Linked DNA regions of Homo sapiens: all the other regions are linked to region 3. The links come from fine-mapping of genetic effects on gene expression. A gene starts in region 3. Each other region holds a variant in brackets. All regions are shown on one strand. Distances are between the middles of the regions.

Region 1 (11,270 bases), 130 kb after region 3:
GTGTAAACTTATAAAAAAGATAAAAGTTTAAGAACACGTATCATAGATGTGTAGAAGAAAATTCATAGCAGCATTACTCAAAATAGTCAGAAACTGAAAATGTCCCAAAGTAGAATGAATTAATGAACTATGCTATGTTAATATAAAATAGAGTATTAAATATTATTCTAAAAACCAGAGAAATGTAAAGTAACACCACCATGCACTATATATACCAGAATTGTGAAACTTTAAAAATAATAAAAGAAATACACAGAAAAATTGTGTGGATGATAAATTTGATCATTATGACTTCCAAAGTCTTCCAATAGAGTGCAAATTTCATACTCTTTGGAAGTCATGTGTTATTTTCTAGTAAATTTGGAATTTACTTGTGCTATAACGCAGCAGTTCCTGGGTATATAATCAATTAGAGCTTTGCACAGGAAGACCAGTAGATTTCTATAGCCATCTCCATTACAGCATCAGATGTGATAGAATCCAAATAGGTGCCCATCAATCCTGATATGGCTAAACACACTGCAGTAAGATGACACAATGAAATATTATATGTCAATAAAAATGAGAGACAGGAATGTGTCATAAACACAAAACTCACTGGAGGCCAAACTCAGTAGAATAAGTGGTTTAAAATTAATGTACACTGTTTACACATTTCTTTAGAACTTATAAATAAAGTATGAAGAGTATTACTACAAGATAAGATAGTAATTACATTCAGGTGGAAGGAGGACTTTTTGTTTGGAAATGGGAATGCAAAGGGCTTCTGAGCGTGCTGACATTGGTCTATATCCTGAACTGGCAAGTGGTCACACAGGTGTTCAATTTATCATACCTTGTTTCCTTGTGGTTATCTTGCCTATGGCTATGTGTGTGTATGTGTTTTAAATTTTACCATAACAACATTAATAAAAGTAAGATGCAGAATAGTAATTAATAAAAATAATATATGGTCATATATGTGTCTACCTATGGAATGATACACAATGAACTGGAAACCCTTTTTGTACTAGAGAGAGGACAGAGGACATATATGAGGAATGCAGATTGGAAAGAAAATCAGCCTAAATTCTAAATGTTTTTCTAATTTTATGCTTATGTTATTGTCATATATTAATTACTTATAACTATGCCAAAATTAACTAAAACATAGACATAAGAAAAAGGCATATCTCGATTATACTAAAAATCTGAAATCTGGAGTTTCAACCCAAGCATGTATGTTTTTCAAAATGCCCTTGAATATTCCTGAGATAGGAATTCAGCCGGACTTGTTTCAAAAGATACAAGGAACAAAGACTCCACTGATAAAACAGGATGTGGTAAATAAGCTGACTGAAACCTACCAAAACCATCATGGCAATGAAAGCCACCTCTGGTGGTCCTCACTGCTCATTATAATTAGAATACATTAACATACCAAAGGAAACTCCCACCAGCACCATGACAGTTTACAAATGCCATGGCAAAGTCCAGAAGTTACCCTATATGGTCTGAAAAGGTGAGGACCCCTCCGTTCCTGGAACTCCCCTCACCTTTCCCAGAAAACATGAAGAATTCACTCCTTGTTTAGCATATAATCAAGAAATAACAACCCCAAGTATGTGGTAAGCTCATGCTGCTACTCTGCCTATGAGTAGGCACCTTTTTATTCCTTGACTTTTCAATAAACTTGCTTTCACTTTACTCTGTTGGCTTGCTCTTGAATTCCTTCCTGCATGAAGGCAAGAACCCACATGGCATCCCGGGCTGAGCCTCAATTTTGCGGTTTGCCCTGTGATAATCTGACTAGAACATTTGCAAGTCCAAACTTATCTATTTCTTCAATTTATTGTGTATTGAAATTTGAGTCTTATTCTTAAAAAAAGAAAATACATGTATTATTTAGAAATTAAAGAAAAATAATTTACAAGAATAATAATATGAGCAAGGAATTGCATCAAATATTTTTGTCATATTTAGGAGTATTTTTCCTGGATTTCTTTAAAACATGCAACTATCTAGGAACAATTAAATTTGGCGATTTGTAGAAAGTCAATTAAAACTACCTGGGAAGATACAGTGCAACTATATTTCTAACAAAGCAGTTTATTAGGAGGCCAAAAAGATGTTTTAGCTGATAATAGTAAAAGTAGACACTTCTGCTATAATGTGATAGTTAGATTTTCAAAAAAGTTTACGCTGGTAAAACTGCACATTGAAAAGGTGAAATTTATAGGGCAAATAGGGATAAACCATTCAATACTTATGAGATATTTAATCAGGTCATTAACTCTAACTTGTGATAAAATTAGTAGCCCTGATGAATTTCTACTTGCAGTTTAAATCAGTGTCACACAGCCAGTGTCTGCTTCCTGACATTCAGCCCTTCTCCTTCTCCTGGAGTCAATACTTTCTTCTGTGAATGGTAGATACTTGTATTAATTTACTTTCAATAGTCTACTGAATCAGTAGTTAGCATCTGATCCCTGGTAGCTGTCTCCACTAATTAAGATTTAGCACCAGGGAAATATCTTTGCAATTACCTAATTGGCACTCTAGTCTCACCAGTTTACAATTATAGAATTCATAGAGGATACTGAAGGTAAATAACCCACTACTTCTGGTAAAGGCACAACTTCTGTGAAATTTTTAAGTTTACTCAGTATATTTACATATTTCTTAGACTTTCTCCTCTGGGCCAAAGCAAAAAATTGGACTCCATTCTGAAAATCTGGAAATCTGAGATGGAGGAGGGGAGGGATCATATGATCACACTGGAAGCAGCAACGAAAATAGGTTCTCCCTGACCAAATTGGCCCCCTTCCAGTAACTGTTCTAATCTTTACAAGTAAGATTCTGAATTTTTAATGAGTCAAAAGTTAAAAATCGGGTGGCTCATACATTTTCAGAAACACACGAGAATCAGGCTTTTTTTTTGGCCTTTGCCAAAGTGTGTAATACTGAGCTCTGCTAGCTACCAAATATCCAAAAATGTAAACTGCATTTTATCCATGAAATTATTTAAACACCGTCTGGAAAGACACCCCAAAGTTCTACCCAGTCATTGCCTCCCAATAAAAACACAGGGAGTCCTCCTCTTCAGGTCCAGACATGGCTTCTTTCTCTGGATGTGGATCCTGATCTTGGGACAAATTTCTGACCCAATATTGTCCATGATCCCTGACTCTACTAGGAGATATTTCCTTGTATATTATCCATGGTCCATCTGAACCGGACATCGGAGTCTTTGCCTTCCTTGAATCTAGGCAGTTCAATTAGCCTGCTTCCCAAAGGGCACCTTACTTTACCATCACAAGCCTTACAAACAGGCTTGTAGATTACTTATCATTACATTCCCATCCTTTCTCATCTATCTGCCTCAAGTCAATTTCATGAGCCACAGTCCACATGCCCAATTCCTTCCAAGACCCAGTTCTCAATACTATCTTCTTACAAATACTTCCTCAAACCTATGCAATGTGGTCTTCCTTGAGGTTACTTGACCTGACAGTTCTAGGCTGGAGATTATGCCCATTTATCTGTCTGTGTCCTGGTGATGTGTGGAATTTATTCCAGGCTCATATTGGGCATTGTGCATAATGTGTGTATACCAAGCCTGATTCTTCTGTGTTTCTGAAAATTTATGAGCCACCCGATTTTTAAAAATGTTTCTTTTATATCTCAATGAAAATAAATTTTCTGGAGGTGGAGCCAAGATGGCCGAATAGGAACAGCTCTAGTCTACAGCTCCCAGCGTGAGCGACGCAGAAGACGGGTAATTTCTGCATTTCCAACTGAGGTACCGGGTTCATCTCACACAGGATTGTCGGACAGTGGGTACAGGACACTGGGTGCAGCACACTGAGCGTGAGCCAAAGCAGGGCAAGGCATGGCCTCACCTGAGAAGTGCAAGGGGTCAGGGAAATCCCTTTCCTAGTCAAAGAAAGGGGTGACAGACAGCACCTGGAAAATCGGGTCACTCCCACCCTAATACTGCACTTTCGAATGGTCTTAGCAAATGGCACACCAGGAGATTAATCCCGCGCCTAGCTCAGAGGGTCCTACGCCAACGGAGCCTCACTCATTGCTAGCACAGCAGTCTGAGATCCAACTGCAAGGTGGCAGCGAGGCTGGGGGAGGGGTGCCTGCCATTGCTGAGGCTTGAGTAGGTAAAAAAAAGCAGCCAGGAGGCTCGAACTGGGTGCAGCCCACCGCAGCTCAAGGAGGCCTGCCTGCCTCTGTAAACTCCACCTCTGGGGGCAGGGCATACCTGAACAAAAGGCAGCAGAAACCTCTGCAGACTTAAAGGTCCCTGTCTGACAGCTTTGAAGAGAGTAGTGGTTCTCCCAGCATGCAGCTGAAGATCTGAGAACAGACAGACTGCCTCCTCAAGTGGGTCCCTGACCCCTGAGTAGCCTAAATGGGAGGCACCCCCCAGTAGGGGTGGACTGACACCTCACACGGCCTGGTACTCCTCTGAGACAAAACTTCCAGAGGAACGATCAGGCGGCAACACTTGCTGTTCACCAATATCCGCTGTTCTGCAGCCTCCGCTGCTGATACCCAGGTAAACAGGGTCTGGAGTGGACCTCCAGCAAACTCCAACAGAACTGCAGCTGAGGGTCCTGACTGTTAGAAGGAAAACTAACAAACAGAAAGGACATCCACACCAAAACCCCATCTGTACGTCACCATCATCAAAGACCAAAGGTAGATAAAACCACAAAGATGGGGAAAAAACAGAGCAGAAAAACTGGAAACTCTAAAAATCAGAGCGCCTCTCCTCCTCCAAAGGAACGCAGTTCCTCACCAGCAATGGAACAAAGCTGGACGGAGAATGACTGACGAGTTGAGAGAAGAAGGCTTCAGATGATCAAACTACTCTGAGCTAAAGGAGGAAGTTCGAACCCATTGCAAAGAAGTTAAAAACCTTGAAAAAAATTAGATGAATGGCTGACTAGAATAACCAATGCAGAGAAGTCCTTAAAAGACCTGATGGAGCTGAAAACCAAGGCACAAGAACTACGTGACGAATGCACAAGCCTCAGTTGCCACTTCAATCAACTGGAAGAAAGGGTATCAGTGATGGAATATCAAATGAATGAAATGAAGTGAGAAGAGAAGTTTAGAGAAAAAAGAATAAAAAGAAATGAACAAAGCCTCCAAGAAATA[T/C]GGGACTATGTGAAAAGACCAAATCTACATCTGATTGGTGTACCTGAAAGTGACGAGGAGAATGGAACCAAGTTGCAAAACACTCTGCAGGATATTATCCAAGAGAACTTTCCCAATCTAGCAAGGCAGGCCAACATTCAAATTCAGGAAATACACAGAACGCCACAAAGATACTTCTTGAGAAGAGCAACTCCAAGAAAAGCAAATGTCAGATTCACCAAAGTATAAATGAAGGAAAAAATGTTAAGGGCAGCCAGAAAGAAAAGTCTAGTTACCCATAAAGGGAAGCCCATCGGACTAACAGCAGATCTCTCAGCAGAAACTCTACAAGCCAGAAGAGAGTGGGGGCCAATATTCAACATTCTTAAAGAAAAGAATTTTCAACCCAGAATTTCATATCCAGCCAAACTAAGCTTCATAAGTGAAGGAGAAATAAAATACTTTACAGACAAGCAAATGCTGAGAGATTTTGTCACCACCAGGCCTGACCTAAAAGAGCTCCTGAAGGAAGCACTAAAGATGGAAAGGAACAACCGGTACCAGCCACTGCAAAATCATGCCAAATTGTAAAGACCATCGAGGCTAGGAAGAAACTACATCAACTAACGAGCAAAATAACCAGCTAACATCATAATGACAGGATCAAATTCACACATAACAATATTAACCTTAAAAGTAAATGGGCTAAATATTCCAATTAAAAGACACAGGCTGGCACATTGGATAAAGAGTCAAAACCCATCAGTGTGCTGTATTCAGGAAAACCATCTCACGTGCAGAGACACACATAGGCTCAAAATAAAAGGATGGAGGAAGATCTACCAAGCAAATGGAAAACAAAAAAAGGCAGGGGTTGCAATCCTAGTCTCTGACAAAATAGACTTTAAACCAACAAAGATCAAAAGAGACAAAGAAGGCCATTACATAATGGTAAAGGGATCAATTCAACGAGAAGAGCTAACTATCCTAAATATATATGCACCCAATACAGGAGCACCCAGATTCATAAAGCAAGTCCGTAGAGACCTACAAAGAGACTTAGACTCCCACACAATAATAATGGGAGACTTTAACACCCCACTGTCAACATTAGAAAGATCAAAGAGACAGAAAGTTAACAAAGATATCCAGCAATTGAACTCAGCTCTGCACCAAGCGGACCTAATAGACATCTACGGAACTCTCCACCCCAAATCAACAGAATACACATTTTTTTCAGCACCACAACACACCTATTCCAAAATTGACCACATAGTTGGAAGTAAAGCACTCCTCAGCAAATCTAAAAGAACAGAAATTATAACAAACTGTCTCTCAGACCACAGTGCAATCAAACTAGACCTTGGGGTTAAAAAACTCACTCAAAACTGCTCAACTACATGGAAACTGAACATCCTGCTCCTGAATGACTACTGGGTACATAACGAAATGAAGGCAGGAATAAAGATGTTCTTTGAAACCAACAAGAACAAAGACACAACATACCAGAATCTCTGGGACACATTCAAAGCAGTATGTAGAGGGAAATTAATAGCACTAAATGCCCACAAGAGAAAGCAGGAAAGATCTAAAATTGACACCCTAACATCACCATTAAAAAAACTAGAGAAGCAAGAGCAAACACATTCAAAAGCTAGCAGAAGGCAAGAAATAACTAAGATCAGAGCAGAACTGAAGGAAATAGAGGCACAAAAACCCTTCAAAAAATCAATGAATCCAGGAGCTGGTTTTTTGAAAAGATCAACAAAATTGACAGACCACTAGCAAGGATAATAAAGAAGAAAACAGAGAAGAATCAAATAGATACAATAAAAAATGATAAAGGGTATATCACCACCGATCCCACAGAAATACAAACTACCATCAGAGAATACTACAAACACCTCTACGCAAATAAACTAGAAAATCTAGAAGAAATGGATAAATTCCTCAACACATACACCCTCCTAAGGCTAAACCAGGAAGAAATTGAATCTCTGAATAGACCAATAACAGGCTCTGAAATTGAGGCAATAATTAATATCTTACCAACCAAAAAAAGTCCAGGACCAGATGGATTCACAGCCGAATTTACCAGAGGTATAAGGAGGAGCTCGTACCATTCTTTCTGAAACTATTCCAACCAATAGAAAAAGAGGGAATCCTCCTTAACTCATTTTATGAAGCCAGCATCATCCTGATACCAAAGCCAGGCAGAGACACAACAAAAAAAGAGAATTTTAGACCAATATCCCTGATGAACATCGACGCAAAAATCCTCAGTAAAATACTGGCAAACCGAATCCAGCAGCACATCAAAAAGCTTATCCACCATGATCAAGTGGGCTTCATCCCTGGGATGCAAGGTTGGTTCAACATATGCAAATCAATAAATGTAATCCAGCATATAAACAGAACCAATGACAAAAACCTATGATTATCTCAATAGATGCAGAAAAGGCCTTCGACAAAATTCAACAACGTTCATGCTAAAAACTCTCAATAAATTAGGTATTGAAGGGACATATCTCAAAATAATAAGAGCTATCTATGACAAACTTACAGCCAATATCATATTGAATGGGCAAAAACTGGAAGCATTCTCTTTGAAAACTGGCACAAGACAGGGATGCCCTCTCTCACCACTCCTATTCAACATAGTGTTGGAAGTTCTGGCCAGGGCAATCAGGCAGGAGAAGGAAATAAAGGGGATTCAACTGGGAAAAGAGGAAGTCAAATTGTCCCTGTTTGCAGATGACATGATTGTATATCTAGAAAACGCCATTGTCTCAGCCCAAAATCTCCTTAAGCTGATAGGCAACTTCAGCACAGTCTCAAGATACAAAATCAATGTGCAAAAATCACAAGCATTCTTCTACACGAATAACAGACAAACAGAGAGCCAAATCATGAGTGAACTCCCATTCACAATTGCTTCAAAGAGAATAAAATACTTAGGAATCCAACTTAGAAGGGACGTGAAGGACCTCTTCAAGGACAACTACAAACCACTGCTCAATGAAATGAAAGAGGATACAAAGAAATGGAAGAACATTCCATGCTCATGGGTAGGAAGAATCAATATCATGAAAATGGCCATACTGCCCAAGGTAATTTATAGATTCAATGCCATCCCCATCAAGCTACCAATGACTTTCTTCACAGAATTGGAAAAAACTACTTTAAAGTTCATATGGAACCAAAAGAGAGCCCACATTGCCAAGTCAATCCTAAGCCAAAAGAACAAAGCTGGAGGCATCACGCTACCTGACTTCAAACTATACTACAAGGCTACAGTAACCAAAACAGCATGGTACTGGTACCAAAACAGAGATATAGACCAATGGAACAGAAGAGAGCCCTCAGAAATAATGCCGCATATCTACAACTCTCTGATCTTTGACAATCCTGACAAAAACAAGCAATGGGGAAAGGATTCCCTATTTAATAAATGGTGCTGGGAAAACTGGCTAGCCATATGTAGAAAGCTGAAACTGGATCCCTTCCTTACACCTTATACAAAAATTAATTCAAGATGGATTAAAGACTTAAATGTTAGACCTAAAACCATAAAAACCCTAGAAGAAAACCTAGGCATTACCATTCAGGACATAGGCATGGGCAAGGACTTCATGACTAAAACACCAAAAGCAATGGCAACAAAAGCCAAAATTGACAAATGGGATCTAATTAAACTAAAGAGCTTCTGCACAGCAAAAGAAACTACCATCAGAGTGAACAGGCAACCTACACAATGGGAGAAAATTTTTGCAATCTACTCATCTGAAAAAGGGCTAATAATATACAGAATCTACAATGAACTCAAACAAATTCACAAGAAAAAAACAATCCCATCAAAAAGCAGGCGAAGAATATGAACGGACACTTCTCAAAAGAAGACATTTATGCAGCCAAAAGAAAAAAAATGCTCATCATCACTGGCCATCAGAGAAATGCAAATCAAAACTACAATGAGATACCATCTCACACCAGTTAGAATGGTGATCATTAAAAAGTCAGGAAACAACAGGTGCTGGAGAGGATGTGGAGAAATAGGAACACTTTTACACTGTTGATGGGACTGTAAACTAGTTCAACCATTGTGGAAGTCAATGTGGCAATTCCTCAGGGATCTAGAAGTAGAAATACCATTTGACCCAGCCATCGCATTACTGGGTATATACCCAAAGGATTATAAAACATGCTGCTATAAAGACACATGCACACATATGTTTATTGTGGCACTATTCACAATAGCAAAGACTTGGAACCAACCCAAATGTCCAACAATGATAGACTGGATTAAGAAAATGTGGCACATATACACCATGGAATACTATGCAGCCATAAAAAAAGATGAGTTCATGTCCTTTGTAGGGACACGGATGAAGCTGGAAACCATCGTTCTCAGCAAACTATCTCAAGGACAAAAAACCAAACACTGCATGTTCTCACTCATAGGTGGGAATTGAACAATGGGAACACATGGACACAGGAAGGGGAACATCATACACCAGGGCCTGCTGTGGGGTGGGGGAAGGGGGGAGGGATAGCATTAGGAGATATACCTAATGTTAAATGACGAGTTAATGGGTGCAGCACACCAACATGGCACATGTATACATATGTAACTAACCTGCACGTTATGCACATGTACCCTAAAACTTAAAGTAAAAATATATATATATATATTGAATGAATGAATGAATGGCAAATTTCAGGTTATTTAGTGCAACATACTGTCAGAAATAGAAGTTGTACTGTATACATAATTGTAATTTTGAGAAAGTCTTAATGTATACATAATGATGATCTTTTTCTAGCAATTTTCAAGTCGTATTCTTATCTTCCTCCTGAACATGATGAAAACGTTGGCATGCTTTAAATATCCACTGATTATCCTCCTTATCTTGTTATGCAGAAATTCAGTTTTGCATTTTTAAACACATGAAATAAGTTACTAATTTTGTAGTCACTAGCAATTAAATCTAGCAGTACTCAAAAAATCAAAAAAAAAGAAAAGACATTTTATATTTCACTTTCAATTAAGGACCTTGATTGATACAATCAGATTTTTAATGTCAGTTTAAATTTAACTAGAAAACCCTATGAAAAGTAAGGGCAGTGATCCCAGGGATTTAGGAATATAAATGTATTTTAAAATATTTAGCAGACAAAATTAAAAGGATCTTATGTTGAATTTGTGGTAATGAGACAAAATAGCAGAGATTAAGTCCCAAATGTCAAATTGACCTCCATCCAATTTGTGGAATCCATGTATATATCTTTGCATTTTCTTACCATGCTGTAAGTACTGAATAATTATTCAGTAATTGAAAAGATATTTAGCCTTTAAAAGTCATTGTCTATTTTTTTCCAGATTTAAAAGGCAAGTAAAAAAAATTTAGTAGTGGTGGTTGACATAAATCTTACAAAAGGAAGCTACTTATTACTTCTGTGGAAACATGAGGGATCACCTCCACCTCACCCGCTTTATCTCCTATGTGAGCTTTCTGCCCAGGTATAGGAAACAAATTGATACAAGATGGATTAATGAAGGAAAAGCATATGAGTTTTATGCATTTCACATGTACATGGGAATCCTCACAAGAGTGTGAAATCTAAATAAATGGTCAAAGCAAGATGTCTTTATACTTTTAGAAACAGAATGATAAATTGCAGAAAAAATTACAAAGAAAAAAAAAGAGACACTGGCTCGAAACCATAAATTCCAGGGGAGTCCCTAGGAGGTATATGGGGGTGTAAAGATAGTGAAAAATAAGAGTTAATTCTGGTAGTTTATTTATTCAGGTACACTGCATTCCCCCAATTCCCAGGCTGTAGTGATAAGGGCTATTTTATATTCCATTACAGGGAGGGTACCGAAAGAGTATTAGAATGTACCAAAGACTCCTGGAGGAATCTTTAGAGCTTGCTGCATGCCAAAAAAGACAGGTCAGATAACCTCTTCCTCTAATGTTAACCAAAATTTCTTCAATGTTTTCAGCTCAAACTAATAAATATGCCAACTTAGCATATTTGTGGATGGCATATCATTCATTCCTTCAATTTACCCTATTTGACTATTGAACCACAGCTCTATTTGACTATTGAACCACAGCTTCTTGTGATGAGAA
Region 2 (11,270 bases), 160 kb after region 3:
TTTATGTAGAAAACTTGAGGTTTCCTAATATTAAAGATGATATCTAAAGAAGCAATTAAGGGAAATGAGGACCTTGTGACAGGGGCTACATGACTTTTAAGCACTAAGCAGCCACACAAAATAGGTTATTGGGCAAGCTGGTTCATGCTTACTGTATGCTTCTACTAAAAGTTTATGCTTTTGGTTAAAAACCCAGAATTTAGTTTTATTCATTTTGTGAGGATGGTTTCCAGATGATTTGCACCCATGAGTTTGAGACCAGTCTGGGCAACTTATTCCAATTATTTTTAGGCCCAATATGTAAGTGAGATCATGTAGTTTTTTTGTGTATGTGTGTATCTGAAAGCCAGTCTGGATTGAAGGACAGAAAGAAAGGAAACCAAGACTGGTACTGGGAGGCTACAGTCATAGTAACACAATAATTCCCAGTATTTACCAGCTTGTGAGACCAAATGGGAATTAATCATGATTGGGATTCTCACTAGGAAGGCTCCATGCCACAAAATCTGAAACATACAGAAACTTTAAGATGCCGAAGAGAATAAGAGACATTCCTGTATCCCTGCCACACATTGTATTCATTAATGAAATGAAGAGACAGCCTTTGTACACAGCTCTGAGTCACACTCCATCACTAGGTTCTATAGGTACCAATGCTTGTCCATTTGTTTCACAAATTCTTTCATGACAAGGTCTCTCTCTTTCATGACAAGGTCTCTCTCTCTCTCTCTTTTTCTCTATCTCTCTCCATTCGGCGTCTGTCCAAATAGCACCACAGGAATTTGTTGGTTTAATTGAGGAATCAAGACCAAAATCCATCTATTTTTTTCATCTTCCATGTCTATTTCTCCAAGTATCATGCATATAACAAACTTCTTACATATTCCATATCTCCTTTACAATGACCATGTAAATAAATAAATGAGGGGCATGGTAATGCTAGTTCATCAGAAAGTCTAGTATCCATTCACCATTCTTTATATATCTAAACTCTCTTTTGACATGCCTCAGAGAGCAAACCTTTCAATATCTATGATATAACCCAAATACTTACTCCTCTACCTGACTTATAAGTCTCCAAAATTAACAGCAACAAAATAAAATTGATGAGCAGGACCTAACTAAATGAAAGAACTTCTGTGCAGCAAAAGAAACTACCAACAGAGGAAACAGCCAACCTACAGAATAGGAAATAATATTTGCAAACTAAGCATCTGACAAATATCTAATGCCCAGAATATATAGGGAAGTTAAATAAATCAACAAGCAAAAAACAACCCCATTAAAAAATGCACAAAGTACATGAACAGACACATCTCTGAAGAAGACATACAAGTGGCCAACAAGCATACGAAAAAATACTCAGCATCACTAATCATCACAGAAATGCAAATCAAAACCACAATGAGACACCATTTCATACAAGTCACAATGGCTATTACAAAAAATTTAAAAAAAAGCACAGATGTTGATGAAGCTGCAGAGAAAAGGGAATTCTTATATGCTGTTGGTGGGAATGTAAATTAGTCCAGCAGCTATGGAAAGCAGTCTGGAGATTTCTCAAAAAATTTAAAAAGGATACCATTTGACGCAGCAATTCCATTGCTTAGCGCGCGCACACACACACACACACACACACACGCACGTATGCACACACACACACAAAATCATTCTACCAAAAAGGCACATGCATTCATATGTTCATTGCTGCACTATTCACAACAGCAAAGACATACATTCAACCTAGGTGCTCATCAACAGTGAGTTGGATAAGGAATACCTATAGGTTTTCTGTTAAATTCAACCCAAAACTTTGATAACAATTATTGTTACTGTCTTAAAGTTTCCAATTATAGAAGGCAAAGTAACACTTTCACCCATTAAAGCTTGCTATGATACCTTTATATTTTGTTAAATACTTTATGATATTTATTAAATATACAAAATCTAGTTAACTTGATAAAATTAACTTAAAACATTTACCTCATTAAAATGTTTTTCTAGTTTTTCCTATTAATAAAACCATTTAAAAGTATTCCTAATAGAAACATTTATTTTTCTCTTTGCAATAACTTTTAGGATAAATTGTTAGAAGGGTTTGTAAAATATAAGCCTGTATGTATACATGAAATAAGACATAATTTTCAGGATATTCTTAAATATTGTATTCATGCTTCCAACAAAGAATGAGAAACTTGATTTGACTACAATCAATGTATGTAAGTATGTGTATGTATATATGTGTATGTGCATGTATTTTTCACTTGAGGAAACTAAAGTGTCAAAACAAACCATTCAATGAATAATGGTAATTTCAAGTGGAGTTGTAGATTTTTGAAAAGAAACTGATTGTGAGACTTGAAATACAATTTTAGGAAGTTTCATAAAAACACAGATATTATATTAGTACATGTTTTTAATATAATGGTTTGATTGTATTTCAAATGTAATTCTTATATATTCTTACAATTTTAGTGGGAGGGTGGTGGAAGCCTTAGGTTATCTTTGTCTTTCTAGAGTGTGTTGAGTGATTGAAATCGGTACCCACAAGAGGAACAATACATTTTTAGACATGCATTGAAAAAACAAACATATGTAAAAACTTTATTATTATTGGGGTTTTGAAAATATCCACATCTTTCTACACTTAGAAAGACAGAAGGTTCGGTTTTCTTTCCAAAGAAACTAACAACACTCTATAGACATTGAATGTGGAAATAGAGGGAATACACAAGTGAAAGGAATTTTCCTATTCTTTTTTTTATGTAGAATGTTGCTCTAGAGCATATTTTTCATTGCCACCAGAACACTGTCAGTGCCAACGCTGTAGACGACAGGATTGAGTGTAAGTGCAAGGAAAGCATAGAATATTTCTAGAAACTTAACCTGGCCTGAAATGTGGATGATTTAAGTCTCATATACATATGTGAAAATGAATGAGTCCCAGTATGTTACAACTGCAATCATGAGGATGGACCAAGTGGAAAATGACCTTTTCCATGCCTGTGATAATTTCATCTAGAGGACACCTCACAGAATTTGGACAGAAGAAGCAGAAATCATAGAGAAAGGAATGAGCAAAAATATGATGCTGCTTACATTAACTCCTCATTCACCCTCTAGTGTTTCTACATAAGAGAATCTGATGTAGATATAAGAATATATATTTCTTTCCTAAAATAAGTTTCAATTTGTTTACTTACTAAGCCAGGTAGCAGTTTATTAAGCAGAATCGATTTACTTAGGCACTATAGAGACTAGTGGCTAATAGCCTCTTAAACTCTCTAAGCGAATACAAAATTTTACCTTATTTTGTCTAATTAATGTCTTGCATCCTTTACTTATAGCATAAGAACTCAATAGAAAAAGCTGCGTTTCTTCTCAAATGAATTGCCACAAAAGTTTAAAGGACATATCCAGCTACCAGCGACCTACAACGGAATGTTCAAAAGACTATGTGTATCTCCACCACAATACCCAGGTATCTGAACACGCACCACTACAAATGCATGTCTTTAGATTGTGATAGGCTTTACCTTTAAGCCTAATTATTTCTATGTGCAGTACTTTAGGTATGTGGTTAATGTTTAAAATATCTTACTTTCCACTTCCAATTTCATCCAAGTATGCTTTACAATCCCACACTGATTGAACCATGCTCTTTACACTCTTTATTAAGAAAAATATATGTGTGTGTGTCAGTGTGTATGTGTGCATGTGTGTGTGGGCATGTTTATTTACATGAAGTCTTCTACTACCCTCAATGTAGGCGTTTCTATGTTTCTATATCCCCAACAGGAAAAAAATGTTTTTTAGCCCTATCACAGATTATTTTTGTATTTTAATCTGGAAATTTGTAAATCTATGAATTCTGACTTCTAAACTTCTATATCATCCTCAGATCTGTTCAGCAGAATGACTTTCTCTTGCTTACAATAATATCTTGCTATTCGGATTTTTACTGTCTCTGATTTCATGCTGCTCTTGGGTCCACATTAGGTATTATTATGAGTTGTAAAAGCAGGCTTTAAAAAAATACAGCACCTGATGCATCTAATATTAACATTAGCACTTCCAGTCAATTTTGAACGTCTCTTAGCAATACATTTTTATATATCATTATATTAGTAATTTTACTCATTCTCTACTGAAATAAAACTCCTTAGCACACCAGGGATAGGAGACTGTTACAGGACTGGAATCAAGTAAAAAAACTCAATTGTCAGGGAAAAAATGTTATTAATATATAATAATTGCTTATTTTATGTCTAAATTATGAACATTAAATAGTTGTATTATTAGAAGATAATTTCATAGTTTATTTAAGGTCCTTAATATATATTGCCACACTGTTCTTTTTAAAATGTTTGTACCATATTTCATGTATGCCTACAATATGTTATGATGTCCAATTCACCAAAATATGGTTAACATTTATTACTATTGTTTTTAATTTTCCAATTGTGAAAGGCTAATCATTTTTCATTAAAGTTTCATATATATCTTCATATTTTGTTAAATATTTATTTCTATAGTATAAAACATTTAGTTGGCATGCTATAATAAAATTAACCTGAACATTTATTTCATTAAAATGTGTTTTTCTAGTTTTTGCTATGAATAACATTACTTAGGGGAGAGGCGCTCAGGGGAGTGGGTCCCAGCGGCAGCTGAGCCTGGGAGAGGAGGCCCCAGAGCCAGCCCCATCCCTGAGCTGCTGATGGGAGGGGAGGAGTCCCCTGAACCAGCCCCGTAGCTGAGGGGTTGATGGAAGAGGAGGCCCCAGAGCCAGCCCCATCCCTGAGCTGCTGATGGGAGGGGAGGAGTCCCCTGAACCAGCCCCGTAGCTGAGGGGTTGATGGAAGAGGAGGCCCCAGAGCCAGCCCCATCCCTGAGCTGCTGATGGGAGGGGAGGAGGGCTGACAGTCGGGAGCAAGAAGGGAGACTGCGGTAACC[G/A]CCCCGTCCCCAGGGGGCCTCTCGTCTGATACCTCGGTCTGGAAGGCGTGCCCAGCTGCCCTTCCGCAGGAGACACCAGTGTGTAGAGCAGAGCCCTTCCTTTCGAGAGGGTCTTCACGCTCTCATCGTGGTCGGCGGTCGCGGGAGAGGGGCCCTCCTGGACCCGCAAGCACGCCCACTACTGCCAAAGACGCCGCGGCTGGTCTCGCAGCAGCGCGTCCTCCGGCAGCCCCAGCGAGTGAGCCCGGGGCTCGGGTGCGGAAGATGATAAAGAGGCTCCACCTGGTGGCCGCAGCGGGTCCTGAAGGAGCGCGTCCTCCGGCAGCCCCAGCGAGTGAGCCCAGGGCGCAGGTGCGGAAGATGATAAACAGGCGCCACCTGGTGGCCGGGTCGGTGATTGGCCCCAAGAGCAATAAAGACAAGTGGGAACCTGGGCCAAGGCGCCTGTGGCAAGGGGGTGAGTGCTTGGACCCTGCCAGAAGGACGTCTCGGGTTGCCGGAGGGTCATCTGCAATGTGGGCAAGCACCGGGAGGCGGCACCGCCAAAACTCAACGCTCTCGAAAAAAATAAACGAGAAGGACTAAGAGAACCAGCTGCTGTGCGTCTTGGGGTGTGACTGGTTCACCCTCCGCGGTCCATGCATATCACCTTTGAGCTCCTGGGCAGGAAAACCCTTGAGTTCCCGAAGGAGAATAACATCCAGCCATTCCCCTCCCACATGTCTGGCACATGGCCCACCAGCTCTGCCACACCCTTAGATTTCTGCACGAGAACCGGCTGACCCACGCACACCTGAAAACCGAGAACATCCTGCATGTGGATTCTGAGTTAAACACCGTCTACAGCGAGCACAGGAGCGATGAGAAGTCAGTGAGGAGCACCAGCGTCCGAGTGGCTGACTTCCCCAATGCCACCTCTGACCGTGGGCACCACATCGCCATGGTGACCACGGTCACTGTCGCCTGCCTGAACTGATCCTTGATCTGGGCTGGACACGCCCCTGCCATGTCCAGGGCATGGGCTACCTTCTCTTTAAGTACTACCAGGTTTCACACTCTTCCAGACCTGTGAAAACCAAGAGCGCCTGGTGATGTTGAAGACCCTACGGCTCATCCCATTACGCGTGATCTCCTGTACCAAGAAGCAGAAATATTTCTACAAATGGGGCCTAGTTTGGGATGAGAACAGCTCTGACAGCCCATATGTGAAGAACTGCAAACGTCTGAAGAGTGACATGCTCCAAGACTCTCTGGAGCACGTGCAGCTGTTTGACCTGATGCGGAGGGTGGTAAAATTGGACGCTGCCCAGCACATCACTCTGGCTGAGACTCTTCTGCACCCCGTCTTTGCTGGCCTGGCAACCTCAGTCGTGGTCCTTCCACACAAGCCACAACCCAAGCAGATGACAGACGCAGGACACTGCATGAGGAGAGCGGAACTGGGCTGCCCAATCCCCATTCTCCAGCCCCTACCACCAGGTCCCAGGACCAGAACCACACAATGAGCAGTGCAATGTGAAGGAAGGCAGGAGCCTGCGGGGGAGCAGACTTGGTGCCCAGCTGCCAGAAGGCAGATTTGACTCAAGCTGTTCATACGTGTTTTTTGTTTTTGTTTTTGTTTTGTTTTTTGTTTGTTTTTTTGAGATGGAGTCTAGCTCTGTGGCCCAGGCTGGAGTGCGGTGGCGCCATCTTGGCTCACTGCAAGCTCCGCCTCCCGGGTTCCCGCCATTCTCCTGCCTCAGCCTCCCGAGTAGCTGGGACTACAGGCGCCCGCCACCACGCCCGGCTAATTTTTTTGTATTTTTAGTAGAGACGGGGTTTCACCGTGTTAGTCAGGATGGTCTCGATCTGCTGACCTCGTGATCCGCCCACCTAGGCCTCCGAAAGTGTTGGGATTACAGGCGTGATCCACCGCGCCTGGCCCATACATTTTAAACTTACAAAGTGTGTCTTAGTGTTTGTAAAAAAAAAAAAAAAAAAAAGGAAAAAAATTAAATGAATTCTCAATAGAAATATTTATTATCTTCTTTGAAATAACTATTAGGATAAATTGCTAGAAGAGTTTGTAAAACATCATCCTGTATGTATAAATGAAATAAGGCAATTTTTATGATATTCCTATCTAATATTGTATAGTTGCTTCTAGCATAGGATGAGTAATTCAATTTTAACACAACTTATATCTGTATATATGTGTGTACATATATATGTGTGTGTGCATATATATGTGTATCTGTAAAATTTTACTAAATAAAGGTGTTGATAAACCAGGCAAAGAATAATGATTTCATATGGAATTTGTGAATTTTTGATAAGTGATTGTTAGCAATATAATTTAACAAAGTTTTATAAAAATAAACATGGATTTGTCTTTTATACAATGGATGTGTGACTGTATTTTTAGGGATATTCTCATAAGTCTTACAATTTTGGTGTTAGGGAATAGGACGCCTTGGGTAACTTCTACTTCCTGTAACTGTTGCATGATTATAATTGGTACCACAGAAGGAACACTACATTTTTAGAGGTACGTGTTTACAACACAAACACATATTATTGTTTATTATTAACAATGTTTCTGAAATATTCACTTCTTATATGTGGTAAGATAGAAGCTTTGATTTCTTTCTAGGAAACCTCTCATGAGTATCCTTCAGGCATTTAACATAGAAATAGACAGAACACACATTCAGGAATTTTCCTATTCATTTTTTTGTGCAGAAAGTTACTTTTGAGCATATTTTTCATCACCGCCAGAACATCTTTATTCCTAAAGCTGTAGATGAAAGGGTTGAGTGTGGGTGTGAGGATCGTATAGAATATTGCCAGGAACTTATCCTGGCCTGGAGTGTGGTATGATTTAGGTCTCATATATGTAAAAATAAATGGCCCATAGTACATCGTGACCACAATCATGTGGAAGGAACAAGTGGAAAATGACTTTTTCCTTGCCTCTGATGATTTCATCTGGAGGACAGTAAGAATAATTTGGCCATAAGAAGCAGAGATCAAGGAGAAAGGGATCAGCAGGAAGATCACAGCACTTACACAAACCCCTCGTTCATAGCGTGTTGTGTCTGCACAGGACAACTTCAACATGGCAGGGACTTCACAGAAGAAGTGATCAATTGCCCTAGAGCCACAGAAGGGAAACTGCAGTGCATAAGCTGTGTGGACTGTGGAGTTGAAAACCCCAATGAGCCAGGAGCCTCCAGCCATGAGAGCGCTGGCATACTCCTTCATAAGAATCGGATAGCGCAGCGGGTGACAGATAGCCACATAGCGATCACAGGACATTGCAGCCAGGAGAAGGCACTCACCACCCAGGAGGGTGAGGGACAGAAATACCTGGAACCCACAACCTGCAAATGAAATAGTTCTGCTGCCTGACAGAAAGTTAGTGACCATTTTGGGAACGATGTTGGAAACATGCAAGATATCCATTAAGGAGAGATGGCTGAGCAGAAAATACATTGGAGTGTGGAGTCGGGAGTCACTGCGAATGAGGAGGATCATGAGCGTATTTTCTGTTACACTCATAATGAAAATGACAAATAAAACTAAGAAGAAGACCACACTTGTTGGGGAAGAAGAGAACAATCCCAAAAGTATGAAATCACTGCTGAAAGTGTGATTCTGATGGCCCATCATGAATTCTCTATTTTTTAACCTAAAAAGAAATAATGAATTAATAATAAAGAAAAAATATTAGTGTAAATCTTAATCTAACAATAATATACCTGCATAATAAAATGAGAGTTAGTGATGCATGTTTTGTAATCAACATCAAAATACTCTTAGCCAGTTTTTGGAGTGGGCATGTTTTACAAGCTGGGCATTTCTTTCTTCAAATAATCGATGATATTCAGTATATTGAGTGGGCCCTTGGCTCCATCTTGAGTCTCATAATCTTAATTAATTCCACATAATTTACTCAAATCTACTCTTTTCTCAAATGTCACTTTCCCAAGGAGGCCTATCCTTGCACACCCTTTAAAAAATTGTAGGGCTCCCACTTAAACCCTAATTTCCTGGTCCTCCTTGCTCTGCTCCATTTTCACATGTTTGCATGTCACTTTTCACCTTCTAGTACATTAAATAATAAACACACTGGTTATATTTACTGTTTATTTTCATTCTATGCCAGAATTTTTACTTCACAATGAGAGATCCTTGTTCTGATCACTGGTATAACCAACTGCCTGGAACAGAGCCTAGTGCATAGCAGTTGCTCAAGAATGTTGAATATTTGAATGAAATGAATGAACTGTGGAACTTGTCTTTCTGTCTATTGCATTTATTATTTAGATTAAACTTATAGAAAATAAAATGTATAATTCTAAGACTTTCCAAAATAATAAGTAATGAAATATTGTCACAAAACTCAATATGTTTATAATTTGAAACACTATATTTTAAATGTAAAAAATAGAAGTATCATCTAGTCAACATCAACAATGTGTCTTTAAGGTTGTATTTCATATTTACGTGTTTGGTTAACTTGTTGAAATTGAAGTATAATGTATTAATTCTATATGTGGGATAGTAGGTGTTCATATCATTTATTTATATTTTGATAGTGGTTACTTAAATGTTTACATAAGAGTTATTTGTGCACCTTCTGTATGTATAACATTTCCCTCAATATGCATAAATACATACATATATACTTTCACATATTAATACGTAAATTATAAAATTTATAAATACATTAGTCCAGGTTTCTGTCTTTCAAGATGCTTTATGATCATCAAAACAAATAACAAACATTAAAAAATTATTTTCCATCTTATTAACAACTACTTGTTTGAATAAAATGAGCTTAGATTTTCCCTTTTGTAAAATAAATGCAGAAGTATGTCACCGACAATATATAAATGATTATTTTAATTTTTGTGAATATTGAGATTCTTCATAAACAGATCACTTAATCCTATTTTAATTTCCTTGAATAACAACAGTTGTGTGCTATGACCTAGAAGAGTTAGAAAAGATAAGCACCTCAATGAAGTTTATAAATGTATGTGTAATTAGTCCTGCCTGTTTTTTATGTTGTTGTTTTGTTTTGTTTATTTGTTTTTGAGACAGAGTCTTGCTCTGTTGCCCATGCTGGAGTGTAGTGGTGTGATCTCAGCTCACTGCAACCTCAGCCTCCTGGAGTCAAGCAATTCTCGAGCCTCAGCTTCCGAGTAGCTTGGAATACAGGCACCACTACCAAACCCGGCTAAGTTTTGTATGTTACTAGAAATGGGGTTTCACCATGTTGGTCAGGCTGGTCTCGAACTCTTGACTTCAAATGATCCACCCACCTTGGCCTCCCAAAGTGCTGGGATTACAGGCGTGAGCCACCGCACCCAGCCATTCCTTTCCGTTTTGACTGTTTTGACCCACAGCTTTGTAAAATGTGATGATACACACAGATTCAGACTTCAGGGCAGTGGTGCCCTGCATGAGCTGATCGTAAATAAATTTACAAAATCAATAAACACTGCTGACAACTCAAATCAACACACCTATATCCGAAGTTAACTTTTCCCCACTCCCTGGAGTTATATCATTCTTCTCGTTTTACTTGTTTAATCAATGATTTACTTTATTATCATAATTCCATGCCCTACTGAATCATATGTCCTTAGCTGACTTCTGGCCCATTTTAGGTCTCATTAATTGCTTTTTACAAGAATGATTTAATTGTTTTAGTGGTCTTTGATGTAAAAATATTTTCAGCTATGCATAAATTCTCCTTCTCTGTATTTCATACTGGCTTTTACATTTTTTAGAGTTCATATCATCTACGCAATAATACCTGTATTTTTTCTTCAGAAATTGGAAGCAATCCACAATTTATTTCTTATCTCCCTCATCATCTTACTTCCAACACCATATGTCCACTACTATGAGGCACCTCATATTTCTGCAACTTTTTTTCATATCTCTTGGCTTAACCAGTCAGTCAGGGATCTGAAATATACTCCCATGATGATGGAATGATTCAAGAAAGTGTATCCTCTATGTTACCCAGGAGTATTTCAATTTTGGGTGAAATCTGCCATTGTATGCAAAGAGAAATGCTCTCAATTCCGTGTTTGAAAGTGGAGAAAATACGTGTCACCTATCCTATAGCTTGTTCCCCACACAGGAAACTCTTTGACGAGGTAAAGTTCATTTATCACCCATCTAGCTCCAAGTATACCTTGTTAATAATATTAAATGTTGGAGAAAAATATACACTCTACATCCATGTCTTTTCTATAAGCCTGGAGATTAATCAGAGAACATGCTCTCCTCAGGATTTTGTCTTAAGTTTTTCAGCT
Region 3 (11,270 bases):
GAAGAAGAAGCTTTGCACACCACATCCCAGGAAGGAGATGCCTTTCTGGCCGGACAGGAAGTTGTACGCCATCTTGGGGACGGTGGTGGAGATGTACATCAGGTCCATAAGGGAGAGCTGGCTGAGAAGAAAGTACATCGGTGTGTGGAGACGAGGATCCACGTGGATGAGGTGAATCATGGCCGAGTTACCCACCGAGGCCAGAAAGAATATGAGGATGATAAGGCACAAGAGAAATATTCCAGTTTGATTTGGGGGAAGCAGACCCAACAAAATGAAATCATTTGAAGTGTGATTCCATTTCTCCATGAAAACTTTCTGCTGTAACTGTTGAAAGAGAAATAGAAACAAAAGCAAAGCACAAAACATGAAATAAAACACAATAGAAAAACAAAAAGGAACTGACTTTATCAATGTTTGTTTAGAATGAGTTGTTTCTCCACTAACACTGCAGGTTTTTTTTAATCAATTTCTATATCTGAAGCATATGGAGATTAGAGAGGATATTCACTTTCTGTTCTTATAGTTTGATTTTCATTACTGTAGATGACAGCAGAGTCAAGCAGCTACAAATCTATTCAACTGGAAAAGCCAGTGTGAGCAGTAGAACAATTGTAATTTATGGCTTAAGCATGTCTTCCAATTTAATTAGATAGAACAACACAATTAAATGTTAATAATTGAGAATAAAGAAATCAAGCAAACAAAAATAAATAATTTTCCCTCCCTGGAAAGTTTGTCTAGCTTTTTATGCCTAGGCTTTTCCTTGGGAATTTTTATTTATGACTTTTAGAATCTCTCTTTTTCTCTTTACACCACCCCAAATCTGGCAGTTTGTTTTTTTCTTCATGCAGTTTCCCAGGTATTCGTAAACTATATTTCTAACATCTGTGTGACTTCTTCCTTTACCTGGGCTTGGAGTGAGAGGTCATGTTTTGTGTGTGCTCTTCTGTCTGAGGCAGACACTGATGTCTCATCCTGCCCAGCATATTGATTTGGTTAGTCATCTTGGGTTACTGATTTTTCAACTTTTGCTGTTCAAAAGCAAATCATAGTTTGTTGCAATTATTCACATTTAGGAACTTAAACTCAACTGTTAGTTCATATAACCTTGGGTAGCATGAATACAATTGTGAAAGAGAGCCTGCCACAGGAAAAAAAATGGAAATTCATTTCTATAGCTGTCTAAGGAATAAACACTAACAATGAAAAGTTGGGAACATGACAGGTGCACAGTAGCATTGGACTTGGATGCCAAATGGGATCACAGGCACTCTCTGCTTCTTATAGTGCTTTAGAAATAAAAACTGATCAGAAAAAAACATGAAAACCATCATTATGATACATTCATTTCCTCAAATAGTGTTCACTGAATTTATGTTTTATGACAGTGCTGCTAGCTACTGATGTGCTTTGGTGATGAAACACAAAGGATTTTAGAATATGTAATTAAAATTGAGATAATTATACAAACAATAGACCAACAAACTCAAACATACAGTGATGTTATGTAGTGATTACGATTCTATAGAAAAATAAAAAAGCAGAGAGATCATTGGATTAAACAAAGGAATTCAAAAAGTATTCCAAACGACTTTTCTAATTTCCAGGGTATGTATGATAAAGATTGATTTTGTAACTCATGTGGCTTCATTCTATCAGTAAGAACTATCCTAGTAATTTAGTTCCAAGCAAATATTTGATTAATTTTATCAGATTAACATGTTGACAGCCTTTGATGCAGTAGTCACTGAGTGAGGCAGTGGGGATAGAATGATTCATCAGGTGCTGTCCCATCCCCAAGTGGGCGACCAACTGTCCTGATGTGCCCAGGCCTTAGGGGATGCCCAACATGTCCTGGAAATTGGAAAAGCCTTTTGTAGTGCTTTCTGAATTCCTTTGTTTAATCCAGGTTTAAATCCAGGGGAAGAAAGCTGCCAGCATGATCCCATGAGGTGTATCCAATACCGAGCCCTGAACAAGCTGACTTGGGTGTAGGTTTATGTGTTCCATCCTGGAGTTGTTTTGAAGAGAGACATTTTGATTCTTTGTTGCATAGACTATAGCTCAGAGTATTATAAAGATTGTTTTATGGCAGTTACTACAATAATGATTTTGTTTCCAAAAATGGAAAAGTGGCATGTTGTTAGGCAATGGAAGAGAATAGTTACTTTTAGGATCCTGTGAATCTGGGACTTGGAGATTTTAGGTCATGGGATATTGGAGTTTGAGTTTAGGATCTATTTCCATTGATGTCCAGCAGCTTTCCTTGTTAGACATGGGACCTTATTTCATGCACCAGAATTACATGAAGCATCATTCTGTCGGTTACCTTATAGCTGGGAAAATGTTGTTCCTGTGGCTATCAGGTGAGTGTGAGATTAGTGACTGCCTTGGCCATCCTTGTTGACTTAAAGAACGACACTAAGGCAAAATTAATACAGAAAGTTTATTTGGGCCAAGGTTGAGGGCTGCAGCCCAGAAACACTTCTGTGGCAAGTAACCTGGAGAACAAGAAGAGACCCAAGTTTTTAAGGTAAAGAAAGGGAGGAATCAGGAGTGGAGACAAATTCTAAAGTTATTTATCAGCAAGTCTCACTGGTTTCAGAAACAACATTGATCAGTGATTGGTTATGCATTATTTAACTATAGGATATGTGGTTTAGGGGATTGATAGGTTAATTCATGGTTAGTTGCCACAAGTCAGTCCAGAGCCCCCATAGCACGTAGATTCAAGAGATGATTACCTAGCTCAAGAAAGAGTGAGATGTGACTGCGGCCACATTTCAATCTTGCTGGGCCTGATAATTTAAAGGGGGCTACTTATTCCTCAGATAAAAAGTTTATTTTCTTTCTCATTCTAAAAGATACGTTGCTGAAATTTATAGAGTTAAAAAACACCTCATTTCACAGAAACTAACAATGTAAGTGTAGCAAGTGTAGGGTCCTGAATTTATTTTGCAAAATTACAATTAGTGAATGCTTCTTAAAACTCTTTTAAACAATCAGCAGGAGACCAATAGCAAATAGTCATAGACTCAGCTCCCTCAATCTCAACAACGTATAGGACAACTATAAAGAGAATTCACAGTTCTGTGTGTTCAGCACATAGTAGGTCCTTAGTAATTGTCACTGTCCTTTGCCCATTCCCTGTGTTAACCATGGAGAGCCCTCACGCCCTGAGAAAATGTTTTTATTAATGTCACATTGTTTGAGAGCTGCACATAGTGCAACTCTAACAAGTTCATGTTACCTTTTTTTACATTTTTAGTTCACTCTTGGTTTTCATTTTTTTTTTTTTTGAGACAGAGTCTCACTGTGTCGCCCAGGCTGGAGTGCAGTGGCCTGATCTTGGCTCACTGCAAGCTCCGCCTCCCGGGTTCACGCCCTTCTCCTGCCTCAGCCTCCCCAGTAGCTGGGACTACAGGCGCCCACCACCACGCCCGGCTAATTTTTATTTTTGTATTTTCAGTAGAGACCGGGTTTCACTGTGTTAGCCAGGATGGTCTCGATCTCCTGACCTCGTGATCTGCCCACCTCGGCCTCCCAAAGTGCTGGGATTACAGGCATGAGCCACCTGGGTGCCCAGCCTTCTTTTTCAATTTGTTATGGAACTGTCTATTCCCTGTGCAGCAGAGAGTTTCCTGATGATAGGAAAACATTTCCAAAAAAGCTTTCTAGGATAAAGCCGACCCAAATCAACTCAATTCAGTTATATTACTATGACTCACTTTGCCCGAAGTTCTTCAGTTTATATAGTGGTATAAAAAGCAGTTTTATGGCCAGGCGCAGTGGCTCAGGTCTGTAAGCCCAGCACTTTGGGAGGCCAAGGCGGGCGGATCACGAGGTCAGGAGTTCGGGACCAGCCTGACCAATATGGTGACACCCCATCTCTACTAAAAACACAAAAATTAGCCAGGCGTGGTGGCATGCGCCTGTGATCCCATCCACTCGGGAGGCTGAGGCAGAAGAATCACTTGAACCTGGGAGGCAGAAGTTGCAGTGAGCTGAGATCGTGACCCTGCACTCCAGCCTGGGTGACATAGTGAGACTCCATCTCAAAAAAAAAAAAAAAAAGCAGCAGCTTTACAGTGACATCATAATCTGCAAACATTCCATATAATTATTTAAAACATGTAAGCATCAAACTATGTTCTGATAGTATATCAGGCTATCAATAACATTATATCACTGATCAATAGGCTCTGCATTAAACCAAAACTCTTTCTGAAGTGAGAATCTCTTCTTTATCTGCCAAAATTCATGAGGAAGAAACACCAGGTAACACTTTATAATATTCATTCCTTACAGCTCCCACAGCTAGTCATTGTCTTTATGGTGAAATCAGAAAACAACTTCACCAGCTCTTGTGAAATATTATCCTGTTTGCATATGCAGTGTTTAGATAAAGTCTCTTCCTTTCCTCTTACCTTGTTTCAGTGAGAACAGAATAAGGCATTTTACACTGAAGTCTCTCAGGTTCCACCATTGGAAGACAGAAGGATGAATGGCTATATTTTACACACAGAACCTTAAGTCACCAACCCTTAGATATTCCTCTTTCTCCTCTAATTGATCTCCAGTGTCCAAGTCCACGGGGGCCAAAACCTTGGTCACTTCACTTGACTTTGCTGATTTGGGGATGAACTCAAATTCTGAACTTAAAGCAAATCAACCAACCCAATCAACTTTGCTGCATTCAGCTGCTACCCAGAATCAGACTAAAGAGGGGTGTATTTAATATTCCAGTACATGATTTCAGAGCTATAGAAGATGTTAAATTATGTTTATGGAAATTCTGTCATCATGTAAGTTAGAGAATTCCGGATTAAAAAAGTGCAGGAACCACTTACAAGTACTCGACTCAGTAATAGCAGAACTAGTCCCAAGGATAGTTTCCTGTCCACTCTTTAGTGAGTTTCCAGGGGGAATGATTGATGATTGTGACTAAATTAAATTATACTAGGATAAAACACTTCCTTCTACTTGTTAGGTGGGGGTAGATAATTGATACATGACAATATATATCCATTTAGCTATTCTACTAAAGTGAAAGCTGACTCTTAGAGACAATGTGATAAAATGAGCATTTAGAGTCAGAGAGAATACTCTAGTCTGACAGCTATGCCACTAATTAGGAAGCTGAGTTGGGAAAATTACTTAAGATTTCAGCCTGTTACTAATCTTTACAACTGGACTAATTTGAGGGACATTCTAATAATTAAATAGAATGATGTATGCCAAATGTTTACATAGTGTCTGTTGCAGAGGAAGGGCTCAATCAACTGTAGCATCTCTTAACCTCTTTAATCCATACATTGGTTAACTAGAAAAGAACACTTTATTTGGGGTTATATTGTTCTTTTTTTATCTTTGAAGGCACTAACTGCTATATTTTATGTCAGAAATTAGAAATAATGCTATAAAATTAATATCCATGTTCTTTGTTTTTTTCCTTTAATTTTTTAGAATTATTATGATTATCTAATGGTTGCATATATTCATGAGGTACATGTGATGTTTCAATACAGGCATTCAATGTGTAATGAGCAAATAAGGGTATTTGGGGTACCTATTACCTCAAGCATTTATTAATTTTTTCTGTTAGAAATGTTCCAATTCCACTTTTAGTTATTTTGAAATATACAATAAATTATTGTTAACTATAGTCATCCTGTTGTGCTACTACATTCTAAGTCTTATTCATCCTAACTGTATTTTTGAGCCCATTAATCATCTCCAGTTTATTCCCCACTCTACTCTACTCTGCCGAGCCTCTGGTAACAGTCATTCTACTATATTTATTATTTTTTAATTTTAGCTCCCACATATGAGCAAGAATGCTCAAAGTTTGTCTTTCTGTGCCTGGCTTATTTCATGTAATATAATGGATAATGAAAATTTACTAGATACATAGAACACTATTCAACCATAAAAAAAAATAAGAGTGAATTCCTTTCATTTGCAACAACATGGATGGAACCGGAACTAAAGTAATGCTGGATTCTTGAATTATCTTGGCACCCTTTGTCCTAGGAGATGATGAGATGAGACTCAATAAATACTGGATGCAAATACGATGAAGTACGAAACTGGACAAAGCCATTCTAGTGCTTTAAATAAGAAGAGTGGACCAGTTATGATCACATACAGATTTTTTATTGCTCTTGTTAGTCTTTGGTAACTTCTATGTTTTTCCCTGCTGCAATGTGGTGCTGCTTGCATTTAACTCAGTGCAAAACTCAAACCCAGGTAAAACTCATTCTCAGCCTGTTACCGTCCCTGTAAGATCCATACACAGCAATGAAACGTGACTTGAGGAAAGTCCAATATATGATGATGCATCTCACCTCAAATTTATGACAATACATCTCAGATTTATGAATACAAATCTCATGGCCCTTTTGCCACGTCACAGTATGTTCTTGTTCTCTGCAGACTTTCTCTGAAAAGTAGTGATCCATGCCTCCTCCTGCTTTCCCCAAACCTTACCCCACTTCCACATCTCTTAGACTCCTCTGGGAAAAATAAACAAACCTGTTAATAAAACAATCAGATTTCAAACTTTTCTTCCATGAACTGTATCAGCCTCCCTCATTCTGTACCATATACTCAGCCTTGTTTCCTGTGACAGCGTATGAAATGACCGTGCTCCTGCCTAAACCCACTCTCTACTTTTGCACAAGGCTCAGCCCCTCTCAGCATCTCCTTTTTACATTTCCATTTCCATCTTCATCTGCACAGAAACATAAATTCTTTAGAGGAAAATATGGCTGTCAAAGATTCAATCATACTCCTTGGAGGCTCTGACCAAAGATTGAGCATCTTTTTCTTTCTGCAGAGATGGAAGTTACTCATTAACAAGTTGGAGCGGTGATGGATATTATAGACAAGGGGTTTCAGTAGGTGCGATCAATTAAAAAAAATCCAGGATGTAATGAATTACTCTGTGATGGTGTCTCCATGAAGCCTGGGAGCTTATAATGAGTTTAGAGATTCTTTACAATTTCTTAGTGACAATAAAGTTTTGGTTTAACCAGTGTAACCCTTCTAAGAAGACTGTGAGGCAGGTATAATTTGTGAAAGTCTGTTTTATAGACCAGAATGTGGTGTACTTTGATGAGTGTGTATTCTAATGTTGTTGAATGGAGTAGTCCACAGATGTGAAATAGATCCAGTTGGTTGATGGTGCTGTTCAGTTATATTCTTACTGTTTTCCTGCCTCTGGATGTATCAGTTACTAACAGAGGGGTGCTGAATATCCAACTTTAATTGCAGATTTATGTATTTCTCTTTTGTTGTCCTATATGTTTTTGCCTCATCTATTTTGACATTATGTTGTTAGGTACATACACATTAAGTATTAATATGTATTATGTAGGAAGTCTTAGCCAGAGCAATTAGGCAAGAGTGAAAAATGAAAAGCATTTAAACAGGAAGGAAGGAAGTCAACATATCTCTCTTTATAGATGATACCATTCTATATCTGGAAAACCCCATAGTCTCTGTCCAAAAGCTCCCTGATTTGATAAATAACTTCAGCAAAGTTTCAGCATACAAAATCAATGTACAAAAGTCAGTGTCATTTCTATACACCAATAGCAGCCAAGGTAAGAGCCAAATCAGGAGCTCAATCCTATTCACTATGGCCATGAAAAGAATACAGCTAATGACGGTGGTGAAAGATCTCTACAATGAGAAATATAAAATGCTGATCAAAGGAATTGGAGAGACACCAACAAATAGAAAAACTTTCCATGTTCATGGATAGGAAGAATCAATATTCTTAAAATGGCCATACTGCCCAAAGCAATTTACAGATTCAATGCTATTCCTAGGTCAAACTATCAATGACATTCCTCACAGGATTAGAGAAAACAATTTTAAAATTCATATGGAATAAAAATAAATAAATAAAACCCAAATAGCCAAGACAATCCTAAGCCAAAAGAACAAAGCTGGAGACATCGCATTACTTGACTTCAAACTATACTACAAGGCTACAATAATCAAAACAGCATGTTAATGGTACAATGACAGATGCATAGACCAACGGAACAGAATGGAGAGCCCAGAAATAATGCCGTACACCGAGAGCCATCTGATTTTCAACGAAGCCAACAAAAATAATCAATGGGGAAATGACTTCCTGTTCAATAAATGGTGCTGGGATAACTAGCTAGTCAAATGCAGAAGATTGTAACTGGAACCCTTTTTACATCACATACACAAATCAACTTCAGATGGATTAAAGACTTCAACATAAAACCTAAACTCTAAGTACTCTGAAAAATAACTTAGGAAATGTCATTCTGGACATAGGACCTGGCAAAGATTTTACAATGAAGATACTAAAATTGATTTTAACAAAAACATAAATTAACAAGTGGAACCTAATTAAATTAAAGAGCTCTTGCATAGCAAAATAAACTATCAAAAGAATAAACAGACAAACTACAGAATGGGATAAAATATTTGCAAATATACATGCAACAAAAGTTTACTATCCAAAATCTATAAAGAAATTTAAACAAATCAAGCAGAAAACAAACAGCTCCATTAAAAAGTGGGCAAAGAATATTAGTAGACTCTTTTCAAAAGATGACATCCATGTTGCCAATAAGCATATGAAAAAGTACTCAACATTACTAATCATTAGAGAAATGCATATCAAAACCACAATGAGATACCATCTCATAACCAGTCAGAATGGGTATTACTAAAAAAATCTAAAAATAACAAAAGGTGAGGATGCAGAGAAAAGGGAACGCTTATACACTACTGGTGCAAATGTAAATTAGTTCAACTATTGTGGAAAGCAGCTTTGTGATTTCTCAAAGAACTTAAAACTGAACTACCATTCAAGCCACCCATCTCAATATTACTTGCATACCCAAAGGAGTATACATTGTTCTACAATAAAGTAACCTGCACATGTATGTTCATCACAGCACTATTCACAATAGCGAAGACATGGAATCAACCTACATGCCCATCAATAGTAGATTGGATAAAGAAAACGTAGTACATATACACCACGAAATACTATGCAGCCACAAAAAGACTGAGATAATGTCCTTTGCAGCAACATGGATGAAGTGGAGGCCATTAGCCTAAGCAAACCAACCAAGGAACTACAAGCCAAAAACTGCATGTTTTCATTATAAGTGGGAGCTAAACATTAAGTACACATGGACACACAGACAGGAACAACAGACACCGGGGCCTACTTGAGGGTGGAAGGTGAGAGACAATGAGAAACCACCTACTGGGTACTATGCTTATTACCTGCATGACAAAATAATCTGTACATGAAACCTCTGTGACCTACAATTTACCTGTATGACAAATTTGCACATATACCCCAAAAACTAGAAATTAAAAAACATACTAAACGAAAGGGTTCAGGGAGCTTCTGTGTTAGCAAACACATTTACATACCCTGAGAGTGGCACACCCCAAGTCCACAGAGATGTTACCAAACGAAACTCAAGTCAGCCTGCCTGATACAGCAAAGTCAAATGCTGACATGGGGATTGCAGCAAGAGAAAGGGAGGAATTTATTACAGGGGGGCAAGCAAGGAGAAGTGAGCAGCTAATGCTTAAGACCTGAACTCTCTGATGGATGGCTACAGGTAAGTTTTTAAAGGGAGGGAGGAAGAGGTTACAGGAAAAGTCATAAATCAATATATGGAGGTTATACATGGGTTTAACCTGAAAAAATGGGACATCTCAAAGTGGGGGGCCCACACATCATAGGGAGATTCAAAAATTTTCTGATTTGTGATTGGTTAAGGAAGTAAAGCTTTGTCTAAAAAATTAGAGTCAGCAGAAAACAATGTTAACTCTCATCCATGGGTGTGACTTCCTCCAGGACCTTCAGGAAGAAATTCAGAAGAAAACATGGTTGTCCGAGCTCTGTCCTCAGTTCCTCCTTATCTGAGGTCTATGTGCCAGTAGAGCTATTTAGTGGGATTCCAAGTTTCTGAAAAACAACTCAGGGACAAATGTTAAGCTGTTATCTCTAGTTTTTATAAAGGAACTAAGTACCCTGTGATTTTAACTTCCTTGGCTATTGCATTAGGCTATAATTATCTTCTTGCTTATGAAGTTGCTCATTTATTTCTCAGGACTAGCTAGGTGCCTGGAATTTCCCCGAAGGAACTTAAGCTTTTCCTTTATCTCTGCACTTGGAGGAACTTACAGGTCACTAAGAGGGCTCCCTGCTCCATCTCAAGCCCCATGACTCAACTTCTGGGGAGGTGGGGGCTGGAGATTGAGTTAATTACCAACAGCCACATTAATGCCTATATAATGAAGCCACCATAAAACCCATAATGACAGGGTTCAGGGAGCTTCTGAGTTGGCAAACACATTTCCTTGCCCAGAGGGTGGCACAGGAGCTCCTGTGCTTGGGACCCTTCCGGAGCTTCCCAGATGTACCTCTTCATTTGATTCTTCATTTGCGTCCTTTATAATAAACTATAATAGCAAGGGTAGCATTTTCCTCATTTCCATGCTTCGTTCCAGCCAGTTATATAACCTGAAGCAGAGTAGTTGTGAGATCCTCCAAGTTTGTATCCAAATCAGGTAGAGGTAACCTGGATATCCCCTACTTGAGACTGGCATCTGAAGAGAAGGCAGTCTTGTGGGATTGACTCCATCAGCATCTGGAGTCTGATGCTCCAGACTCCGGTCAGTGTCAGGATTAAATTGAATAGTAAGACACCTAGTTGGTGTGAGAGTTGGAGAAGCGGTATTGGAAAAGACACTGTGAATTTGATTTCAAAAAAAAAATTCATTATTTTTGTTTTGTTTTCCATTAGTATAAAACTGGTTGATATCTAATATGGCATGGACAGAAGTTCTTTACATGTCTACTTGACAAAACAACTTCACAGATTCTGGGCTGTAATTTATGGTAAATGGCAAATCAAACACAGAAGCATTCACCCAGAGCACTAAATAGTCTTTGAGCAGGACTATTAAACACCGAAAGAACAGGCTACCCTGCCCTTATCTTGTTTTAGATAACTTTTTACAATATGTAGGCCAGAATCAACTTTACTCTGCCTTGCAGGGATTGTTTTTTATTTCAGAACAATTACAATAATGACATCAATGAACATGGATGGAGAATATACTATGGGCCAGACACTCTCCCAGAACGTTTACCAATATTTTATTTATTCCTTCCTATAATGCTACAAAGTAAGCAATTTTATTATGCATCTTTTATAGGAAAGGAACATGAAGATCATTTTATCCAA

The links. PIP is the estimated chance that this variant, and not a neighbour inherited with it, causes the effect.
Region 1: its variant is fine-mapped to the expression of OR2L13 in cerebral cortex (GTEx, PIP above 0.99). The same link has a PIP of 0.9 or more in nucleus accumbens.
Region 2: its variant is fine-mapped to the expression of OR2L13 in whole blood (TOPMed, PIP above 0.99). The same link has a PIP of 0.9 or more in blood mononuclear cells and putamen.

Annotation. Positions count from the first base shown.
Region 1 is chr1:247,953,501-247,964,770 of GRCh38, reverse strand. It overlaps a transcript of OR2L13 not described here. Among named protein-coding and RNA genes, the nearest start is that of OR2AK2, 6.1 kb to the left of the region's middle. The variant T/C (reference allele first, on the strand shown) is at 5,155.
Region 2 is chr1:247,931,103-247,942,372 of GRCh38, reverse strand. OR2AJ1 (olfactory receptor family 2 subfamily AJ member 1) reads right to left here. Exons shown (of 2, transcript NM_001355235.2): 2 at 7,034-8,626. The coding sequence starts at 8,604. The coding sequence ends at 7,618. It also overlaps the pseudogene CLK3P2, a transcript of OR2L13 not described here and the pseudogene OR2X1P. Among named protein-coding and RNA genes, the nearest start is that of OR2AJ1, 12 kb to the right of the region's middle. The variant G/A (reference allele first, on the strand shown) is at 4,957.
Region 3 is chr1:248,088,415-248,099,684 of GRCh38, reverse strand. It overlaps OR2L13 (olfactory receptor family 2 subfamily L member 13), which reads right to left and starts at 4,501. Exons shown (of 3, transcript NM_001395936.1): 1 at 4,431-4,501; 2 at 910-1,034; 3 at 1-327. The coding sequence starts at 309. It overlaps LOC105373275 (a long non-coding RNA gene), which reads left to right and starts at 4,143. Exons shown (of 4, transcript XR_949369.3): 1 at 4,143-4,281.